Linked DNA regions of Homo sapiens: region 1 is linked to region 2. The links come from fine-mapping of genetic effects on plasma protein levels. A gene starts in region 2. The other region holds a variant in brackets. All regions are shown on one strand. Distances are between the middles of the regions.

Region 1 (3,797 bases), 11 kb before region 2:
AACTTCTTGTTTCATTCATTTTGTGGCCCACCTGGTCCCGGCTACATACGCAGAGCAGGTTGATGCAGACCCACTTAGCTTTGGGACCTTGGCTTCATACCGTTTGTGAGAAGGCAGAGCGGAGGGCAGGACCACACACCTGGTCGGAGTCATTGACGGTGATCTTGAGGCCCCGCAGGATCTCTCCCTGGGGTGGGTGCTCATTCATGGACAGCTCAAACCTGTTTTGGGGTCCGCTCTCTCCATAGAATGTTGGCGGGTGGTTGTTGAGGTCCACAATCCTGATGGTGACTGGGACGGTGGCCTGGGCAGCTGGGCTCCCCGCAGGGCTCATTTCAGTCACCTGGGATGGGGACAAGTGGCTATGGCTGTGTGGCAGGTGGACCCTTCATATGGTCCAGCTCCTACCTCCCCTGCAGAATGTATAATCCCCTCCGTTTGAGTGTGTCCTGGCTTAGCAACTTGGTTCTAACTGATAATATATGGCAAAGATGGCAAGCTATCACTTCATGATTACATGACAAGAGATTGTAACGTCTGTCTTGTGAACTCTCTCTCTTGCCGATTTTGATGAAGCAGGAAGCTACAGTTAACAGAGACTAATGGTGACCTCTAGCCAACAGCCAGCAAGGAGCTGAACCTCTTAGTCCAACAGCTCACAGAGAACTGAGTCTTGCCAATAATTGGGTGGGCATGGAAACCAACCCTTTCCCAGTCAAGCCTGCAGATGAGACCCCAGTCCTGGCTGACAATCTGATTGCAACCATGTGAGGGACCTGGAGACCGAAGACCCAGCCAAGCTGAGCCTGGAGTCCTGAACCACAGAAACTATGAGATATGAATGTGTATTGTTTTAAGCCACTAAGTTTGGGGTAATTAGTTATGCAGCTGATAACTAATACAGCCTACAAAGCCAGGGCAAAGATCCCATAGGTACCTTGTGAACCATGTGGCAGATATCCTATGAACCTCTTCAAGACCACCTTTCCCTTGTTCTGTAAGCATGCTCTGGTCTTTTGTATCCTAAAATAACCCTACCTGGACTCCACTCCTTGACACTTTCACTGCTATCCCTCTTGATTCTCATCCCACCCCTCATTCAGATTCTTCACCCTGACTTCCACACTGTATGTGGCACTGCTACTCTTTCTCCTTCCCAAGTGCTCTATTCCCACAGCAATGTGACTCTGCTCTCTACATCTTCTCCTCAACCTCTCTGATCCCTCCTGGGTTTCCTTTACCTGCCCCTCTCCTCCTCCTCACTCTCAGCCTCTTCACACAGCTCCCGCAGCTGTGCTTGGCCAATTGTCCTCTCTCTTCTTCTTCCTCTGGGTGCTTTTATTCCCTCCCATGCCTTCCACAGCTACCTGTAGGTTGACATTCTCTCCCACAATTCCAAACCTGTATGCCCAAGTTTTGATGTTTGAACTTGCATGTCCCTCGAGCCTTCAAATGCATCCTTCCTCACCTACTTCACTTGCCTGCTGTCCTGTACTCCTGACGGCACGGGACCACCTGGGCTTCATCTATCCCTCTCCCATCCCTTTCCCTCAAGATCAGGCAATTTCCTCATTCTGTGCAATCTGCCTCATGCATACTTTTCATTTTGTCCCTTTCTTCCATCCCACCTACCCTCAGCCCCACAGGCTGTCTTCCTCTGTTACTTTGGCCGATGGCTCTACCTCTCATCTAGTTCCCTCTGAACCCAAGTTGAGACCAGAGTTCTCAAATTCTGGCTGGGACTGGTACCAGAATTACCTGGGTGCTTATAATACGCAGATTCCTGGGTTTGCCCCAAACACACTGAATTCCTATGCCCGGGAGTGGATCCTGAAAATCTTGGTTGGCCCAAATCTCCAAATTTGGGAACTCCACTGGTCTGGTGAGCAGCCAGGTGAACTTTTCAAGTGGCTGTAATCCTGCTGAAAACCTTCCAATGGCTCCTTACTGCTCTTGGGTAGGACCAGCTACATAATTTGCAGGCCCAGCGAAAAATAAAAATATGGGATCCCTTGGTGAAATTATTAAGAATTCCAAGACAGCAAACAGCGAGCATTAAGCTTAGTGTGGGATCCTCCTAAGTATAGTCCTTGTGTGACTTCACAGGTCACATGCCCGGCTCTAGCGACAGATCCATACCTCCCATTCAGGACCTTTGCTCCTCTGGCCCCAGCCTGGGAGTCCAACGTTTCCTCCTTCTCCAGGCTGCCCATCTTTCTCTGCTCTGGCCTCAACTGACTCCTTGTTGTTCCCCCAATATATCAGTTCTCTCCCCTCCAGCCTGGGCTTGCTGCACTTTCCTGTCTTGGAATGCTTTCACTCCACCCCCACCCACCCAATGCCCGCCTCTGGCAGCATGCACCTGCAGGATCCCACCCATGCTCAGGCATTGCTGCTTCAGTTGCACCTCCTCTTGCCTTTCTGTGACTCCCTGTTTGTGAATTCATGTCTGGTGCAGGTGCTCTTTAGAACAACATCTAGCCCCCTCCCCAGACTATGGGCCCCAGGAAAAAGGGCCTGGGTGTCTTCACCTTTATAGACTTCCAGGGCCAAAGGTGGGCAGGGAAGACAAAGCTAGAGGGAGGGTACCTGTACATGCAGCTCATACACCTCTCTCTGGAGCTGGGCCGGGCTCTGAGTGATGGAGATGGCTCCAGATGTCTCATTAATTTCAAAGGCTCCATCGTTCCCTGTCAAGGGAGATGCACCCTGAAGTTCTGCACAGGACCACAGGGAGGCGCAGGGGAGTCGTGCCACAGGATCGTCCTGCATTGCCTAGGGAAGTCTTCATAGAATGGAATCCTGTCATCTGTGTCTTGTCAACATGGAAACAGTCTCAGAGGGGCTAAGTAACTTGTCTAAGGCTACACAGTTAGTGCAGATCTGGGACTTGAACTCACTTCTGTCCAGCTCCCACATTC[C/T]ATACTGTGTCCCTTTTCTTATGCATAATACTATATGTGCATGTGTGCACGTGTGTGTGTGTGTGTGTGTGTGTGTGTGTGAAGAAAAGAGAAAGGAAGCAGGAGGACATACAGTGAGAGACGGACATGGAAGGGGAGGGGGGAAAGAAGGGACAGGAGGGAGGGAATAAAGAGAGGAGAGGGAGGGTGTGGAGTGGGACAGGCAGGAGATGGGGTGGGTGCTCAAGGACTGGGTAAAGGTTTGCAGTGGTGATGGGAAGGAAGGCAGCTGAGGTCCTGTGAGGCTGGGGAAAGGAGGCTGGCAGCCCACATGTGAGCTGCTGGAAAGTGAGTATGCACAGGCATGTCCTAGAGAAAGGCCGGGGCATATAGACATGCACACTTCTGGTACCAGGCACCAGATGCGATGCCCTGGCCTGGCCCAGGGACAGCTCATCTGGCTCAGTTGCTGCCCAGCTGTGGGAAGAGCACAGACTGTGGAGCTAGCAGGCTCAGGTTCAAATACAATGATGGAAACTTGGGATGCCTACTCAGCTTCTCTGAACTTCAGTTTTCTTGTCCATATATAGGGCTAGCACTAGGGAGATGCCATATCACCAATGCATTTGATTCATTTAATTCATCTATATGCTGTGGGATAACAATTAAAAAGAATGAGGAAAATACATAGCCACTTAAAAAGTGTGAGAAATGTTGCCACGCATTCCCATCAAGGAGCAAATACCCAGGGGGAGAGGAGCATGGGTTAGCACCTCCGTGTTGCTCTCAGCGCCCCTGCCCCATGCTCTCTTGGCTGTTGGATATCATGACAGGCAGGGACCGAAGCACACAACCCAGAGACTTGCTTGTCTTGGACACAGCCCTTCCTCTCCATAC
Region 2 (5,461 bases):
TCACCCTTCTCAGGCCCAAATACTGCAGGCTGCCAGGGACTGCCTTGGACGTGCACTCACCAGATTCAGGCCATCAGAAATGCTGATGATGGCTTCAATCTCATCTTCCCTCTGTGAAGCACAGGGACTGAGTGAGTGTCCAGGAGTCTGACACGCCATAGGACCCCTGTGGCTGGATGGAGCTCTCCCTGCCCCACGCACCCATCAGAGGAGGTCTGGGCGTGCCAATAGATCCCTGGAGCAGGGTAAGTGGTGGTGACAGCATGCCTGGCAGAGTAGAAAGCTGCCTCCCCCCATGCTTGAGACCTTATTTTGGGACTTTTGTGTCCGGGGTTCTTATAAACTCAGAGACCCAGAGGGTCTGTTGGGGCTCCAACAGAAAATACTCTCCTGCCACAGTGAGGCGAGATGTCGACCTTAGTGTGCTCAAGGTCCCATAAAGACTTTTCCTCTTTCTTTTCCCTTTTCTCCCCTTTTCTCTCCACACCTCTCCACATTCCAGGGCTCTGCAGAGGCTCACATCCATGGTGTCTCAGTGCTCCCAGGATATGGTGAGACCTCAATGGGGAAGGGTATCGGATGTTGCCAGATCCCGCGGGTGCCAGGGAGTGGGGTACTGGCAGCACAGTCAGGCTCCACTGCTGTGTCCCCACAGCAGTCCCTGAGACCTCCCTTTCCTTTCTCTACCCTGTCCTGCAGCTAGTGGAGGCTGTCACGAGCTGGCAGCATCCCCACAGCTGAGGTCCAGTTAGCCACACACCAGGCTGCTATGCGGTCTGAAAAAGCCCATGCCCTGTTGCCTGCAAGTTCTCAAGTGTGTAGAGTGGAGGAGCTCTGCCAAACTCAGACTCACTGCCAACCACCCTTTCCAGCCTTGACCTGCTCTGAGTTCCTGTGCCTCTCCCAGGACAGGCTTGAAAAATCACTTTGTGAGGTTTCTTTCAGAAACCTCAAAGTGCAAACGGATTTATTTTTAATGGAACATGCTTAAAAGATTAGCAGGGCTGGCAGGTGCTCGTTAAAGGAGCCCACTCTTCGCTCTGTGTGAAGGAGGAGCATGAAAGTAAAGCCCACTCTGCTGATGGGAAGTGGCCCAGAGATCTCACAGAGTGGATGTGCCTGGGGTGTGCCCCCTCATCCCCTACTCTGTGGAGAGGTTCTAACCAATGTGCTCCAGGGGAACTTCAGCCCACCGAGGTCTGTCTACAGGCAGTGGCCCCGCAGCACTCCCCACACCTCCCCATACCTCTCTGTCCAGCTCTTCAACCAGGGTGATGTTTCCAAAAGTGGGGTCAACAGAAAAGACGCTTCTAGTGCTGGGGTCAAAGCTGATGTGGTAGGAGATGGGGTCTCCCTCAGGGTCTGTCCCATTCAGGGTGTATACGTGAGAGCCTGGAAGGAAACACAGTGGAGAGACATAGAATCTGAGACCCAACTTTTCCTAAAAGTGGCAGATGCTCAGGACCAACGATTCAGCTGTTTATAAAGTGACTATTCAACTCAGTGCCAAAGGTACTGCCCTGAACTTGGTGCTCATTGCTGGCCTCACCCCTGCTGGCTGCTTCCCTCTTTGTATGTTTATTCTTCACAGCGGGTGGTTGTGATGATCAGCCACTTTCCAGATTGTAATCTATAACACGGGTTACAGAGCAGGTGCAGGTCTGCCGTGCCTAACTGTAGTGCCTATGTTCTGCTCAGCCTGGTAATAACTCCTCTCTCAGGATCCAAGATTGAGGGGCTCCTGGGTACAGGGAAGGGGAAATGGGAGCAGCCATTAAGGCAGGAGGGGTGACCCACAGTGCACCACTGTCCCCGATGCCTGGACCTGGTTCTGCAGGGATTTCTGAGCCAGGTGCCTACTTTGCTCTGCTCTCCCTTTTCCCCGGGTTCCCACTACCCACAAAGTGAGGGAGAAGGAGTGTGAAATCTCCCCTTTCTCCTCCCCTCTCTCTGCATATCTCAGCAAGTTGGATGTTCTTAGGCCGTTTTAAAGCCTAGAGACCTGGGGCTCAGGGAGGTAAATACATTTGTTCAAGGTCACACAGCCATAAGGGGCAGCTGTAGCTGCCTGCCTCGCGGGGCGACCCTGTCTGTGGGGGGGAGCCCTGGTCTCCAGGACTGGCCAGACTTAAGTCGCCATGGCAGCAATGACCTTCTTTCCTGCCATTGCCCAGGGGAATTCGGAGAGCAAACAAGGAGCCCCCGGGCGCGCGCAGCAACTTGGGTGGTGCCTGGGGCACTTTGTGTTCTAAGTCTGCCTGCACCCCTCAGGGAGACCTATCGGGAGCAGGTGCCAGGGCTACTCACCTACAGGGGTGTCCTCTGGGAGGCTGAACAGAGCCATGTTTCCGTTGGTGCTGCCGACCCCGTTGTCGAAGAAGTGCGGGGCGAAGTTGGCCTGAGCTGGAAAAAGAACACAGAACAGACGGACACCCAGGCAAAGGACACCCAGACACCAGGAGGGAGCTTCGCACCAGCGCGGTCCCGCGTCAGGCCCAGCTACTGGGCAGGAGGGCGCTCCGCCTCCCCAACCCAAGTGCACCGAGGGACCCCACTGGGGCGCCGCCCAGAGGATGCCCCTGACCCCCACTCCGCCCCCGGTGGGCTCGGGCTTGTCAGGGACACGTAGCATGTGGGCGCTTAGAACCCAGGTAGCAATCCAACCCCTCCTTCATCAATGGGCAGATTGCACCCGCGCTCGGAGAGGGGCAGTGCCCCAGCCCAGCCAAGGTCAAGCCGCGAGTCAGGGCACTATCTCCTGCCCCACGCAGCATCGGAGCTGCCACCAAGCCTACAGCTCTGGTTCCCAGCAAGCGGAGAGCAGCGGGGGTCCGGGCGCCAAACCCTGGGGCCCTAGGATGCCAGCTCTGGAGAAGCGCCCCGGAGCTCCCCACTACTCCGCTACCCCACTCCCCACTACCGAATGGGCCAGGAAGATGGAAGGACTTCTCCGCTCCCGTCCACCAGCCCGAGTCCCACTCTGGAAGTGGTCCAGGACCATGTCCCTCTGGCCACCTGGGTGACGCCAGCGCCCATCTCCCTCGCCATCCACGCGGCCAGCGCGGCCCAGCGGCCACTCACCCAAGCAGAGGCGCAGCAGCCCCAGGGCCAGGGCGGCCCACCGGCAGCGCCTCATGTCTCCGCCGGCGCGGAGTGTCGCCTGCCGCCGCCGAGACCGGGCGCAGGGGCACGGAGCATGCCCTGGGCCCGCGGGGAGGGCAGAGACCACAATGGGGGTAGCGGCGACTGCAGCCGCGGCGGGAGGGGGCACGGGGCGGGAGCGGCGGGTGGCGTGAGGGCGCTAAGAGGATGACACGGCTCGGATCTGCTCCTGCCGGCCGCCTGACGAGACCAATTAGCGGCGCAGAGCGGAGCGACAGGCTCCCAGCCGCGGGCGGGGGCAGGAGGGCGTGACAAGAGGACTCCCCGCCCGCCACGCCCCCTTTGCCGGCGGCCCCCAGTCCTGGACAGGAGGACACCATGGGGGACAGGAGTGTCTTTCCCCCAAGTTGTCCTGAGGCTTTCCCAGGGTACTTAAGTCCTGGTGGGGCTTGGGCTTCGCAGTTTTCTTTTCTCATCAACTTCCTCTGTGACTTTCAGGGGCTTAGCTGTCTTCTCTGAGCTAAGCATTCCAGAAGAAAAGTTAGTGGAGCGGCCGAGAGGGCCTTGCCTTAGCAGTCTAAGCAGGTTCTATAAGCCGCGTGAGACCAAAGGCAAAGAGAAAGGGTGATGGATGGGCAGCAGATGGTAAGGGGTTATCAGGACCCCCTCTCTGTGATCTCAACCCATTCCTGCCCTGTTCCCCAGGCTGGACCACCTCTCCCAAAGGGTCTGATCTGTGTGGTGGGCAGCAGGGAGGACCCTCAGGTGTCCACCAGGGTGAGAGGCAGTTCTGCTCCCCATTCCCAGTCAGTGCCCAGTCTGGGACCATGAAGGGGCAGCTGACCCACTCTTCAAACCTTCCAAGGAAGAGTGAAGGGCCTGAAGGCAGAGTTAAGCCCCATCTTAGGACAGACTTGCACAGAGCTGGCCAAGATAGATCTGAACTGCCCGAGAGGCACGAGATCTCATTCCTAGAGGGTATTTACACAAAGCAAGGCACTGCTATTGGGGTCCTGGATGCTGATAACTTGAAGACACAGGTAAGCCCAGGAACCTTTTTGGCTGCTGGTAAAGCTCCTTGGGCTTCCTCGTTCTCCTGCTCTGACACTGGAGGGTGCTTGGAAATGCAGCCTGTTTTCCTTTTCCTGGTTGGGCCATTTATGGGGGTACAGGTCACTTCAAGCCCAAGCCAGGCCACTTCCCAGGATGCCCTTGGGTGGATGTGTTCTCAGATAGAGGAGATCCCTCCTCTGTGTGCTCCTGGGAGAGGTCTCCACAGCTGAGGACTCAGCATTCCCCCCCTCCCCCTGCCAGGGGCCTTTGAGGGAACAGAGCACCCCCCATCCCTTGGTCTAGCCCTACATGATCTACTGTGAGCAAGGGTCAGGGATTTGCAGAGAAGAAGGAAGATGAATCAATGGTTTTAGAATGTGCAGCAGTTTTCAGGCCTAATTGGCCGAAACCCTTGTTGAGTCTCCTTAGGCTTGGCTCTTTTGCTGAAAAGACACACTTTAAATTGCACAGATGTTCTGAATCTGCCTCCCAAAGTGCTGGGACAAAGCTAAGGCAAGTATTCTGCAAGTCCCATATAGGGATGTGGAGACTGAGTCTTGCCGTGGATTTCCCAGGAGCCAGAGGCAGAGCCAAGGTTTCCTGGAGTAGATGTCTTGGTGGGCCGAGAAAAGCCAGCTCTCCCTGGGTCCTGTTAGCCCTGCTCCTCACCAATCTAGGGCCGTTGATTTCTCTCTCCTCAGTTCCCTCAGTCAACAGCCATGCACTGGAGAGGGAAGGGGAAGGAGTAGCCTACATGCCATGTGCTGTATGTGTGCTTATGTATATTTGCCCATATTATCTTATTTGACCTGCACTGCTCTCCCAATGTGATTTTCTCTGCTTTGCAGAGGAGGGAGATTTCCTCATTGGCTGTGTACGACCAAGCAAGTGACTTATTCTCTCTGAGGTGCAGAGCTTGGATTCACATACAGTTTGGGTTGGCTCCAAAGAAGGTTCAAACTCTTTTTTTTTTTGAGCTGGAGTCTCACTCGGTCACCCAGGCTGGAGTGCAATGGCGGATCTCAGCTCACTGCAACCTCTGTCTCCTAGGTTCAAGTGATTCTCCTGCCTCAGCCTTTCAAATATTGGCATTACAGGTGCACGCCACCATGCCCAGCAAATTTTTTTTCTTTTTTTTTTTTTTGGTAGAGACGGGGTTTCACCATGTTGGCCAGGCTAGTCTTGAACTCCTGACCTCAGGTGATCCACCCATCTTGGCCTCCCAAAGTGCTGGGATTACAGGCATGAGCCACTGTGCCCGCCTGGTTCAAACCCTTTTCATGGCAGAAGAAGATGATCTTGAATC

What was found. A credible set is the group of variants that fine-mapping cannot tell apart. PIP is the chance, under the fine-mapping model, that this variant and not a neighbour inherited with it causes the effect. Protein levels are from antibody-based Olink assays in UK Biobank. Linkage for the fine-mapping came from a reference panel and not from the study's own genotypes, which makes the PIPs less certain.
Region 1: its variant is the best candidate, but not a certain one, in a credible set for the plasma level of the CDHR1 protein (UK Biobank, PIP 0.54).

Annotation. Positions count from the first base shown.
Region 1 is chr10:84,204,720-84,208,516 of GRCh38, reverse strand. CDHR1 (cadherin related family member 1) reads right to left here. Exons shown (of 17, transcript NM_033100.4): 10 at 2,590-2,690; 11 at 140-343. Among named protein-coding and RNA genes, the nearest start is that of CDHR1, 12 kb to the right of the region's middle. The variant C/T (reference allele first, on the strand shown) is at 2,922.
Region 2 is chr10:84,192,436-84,197,896 of GRCh38, reverse strand. CDHR1 (cadherin related family member 1) reads right to left here and starts at 3,360. Exons shown (of 17, transcript NM_033100.4): 1 at 3,082-3,360; 2 at 2,308-2,403; 3 at 1,247-1,392; 4 at 61-111. The coding sequence starts at 3,136. RefSeq lists silencers at 3,145-3,264, 3,335-3,464.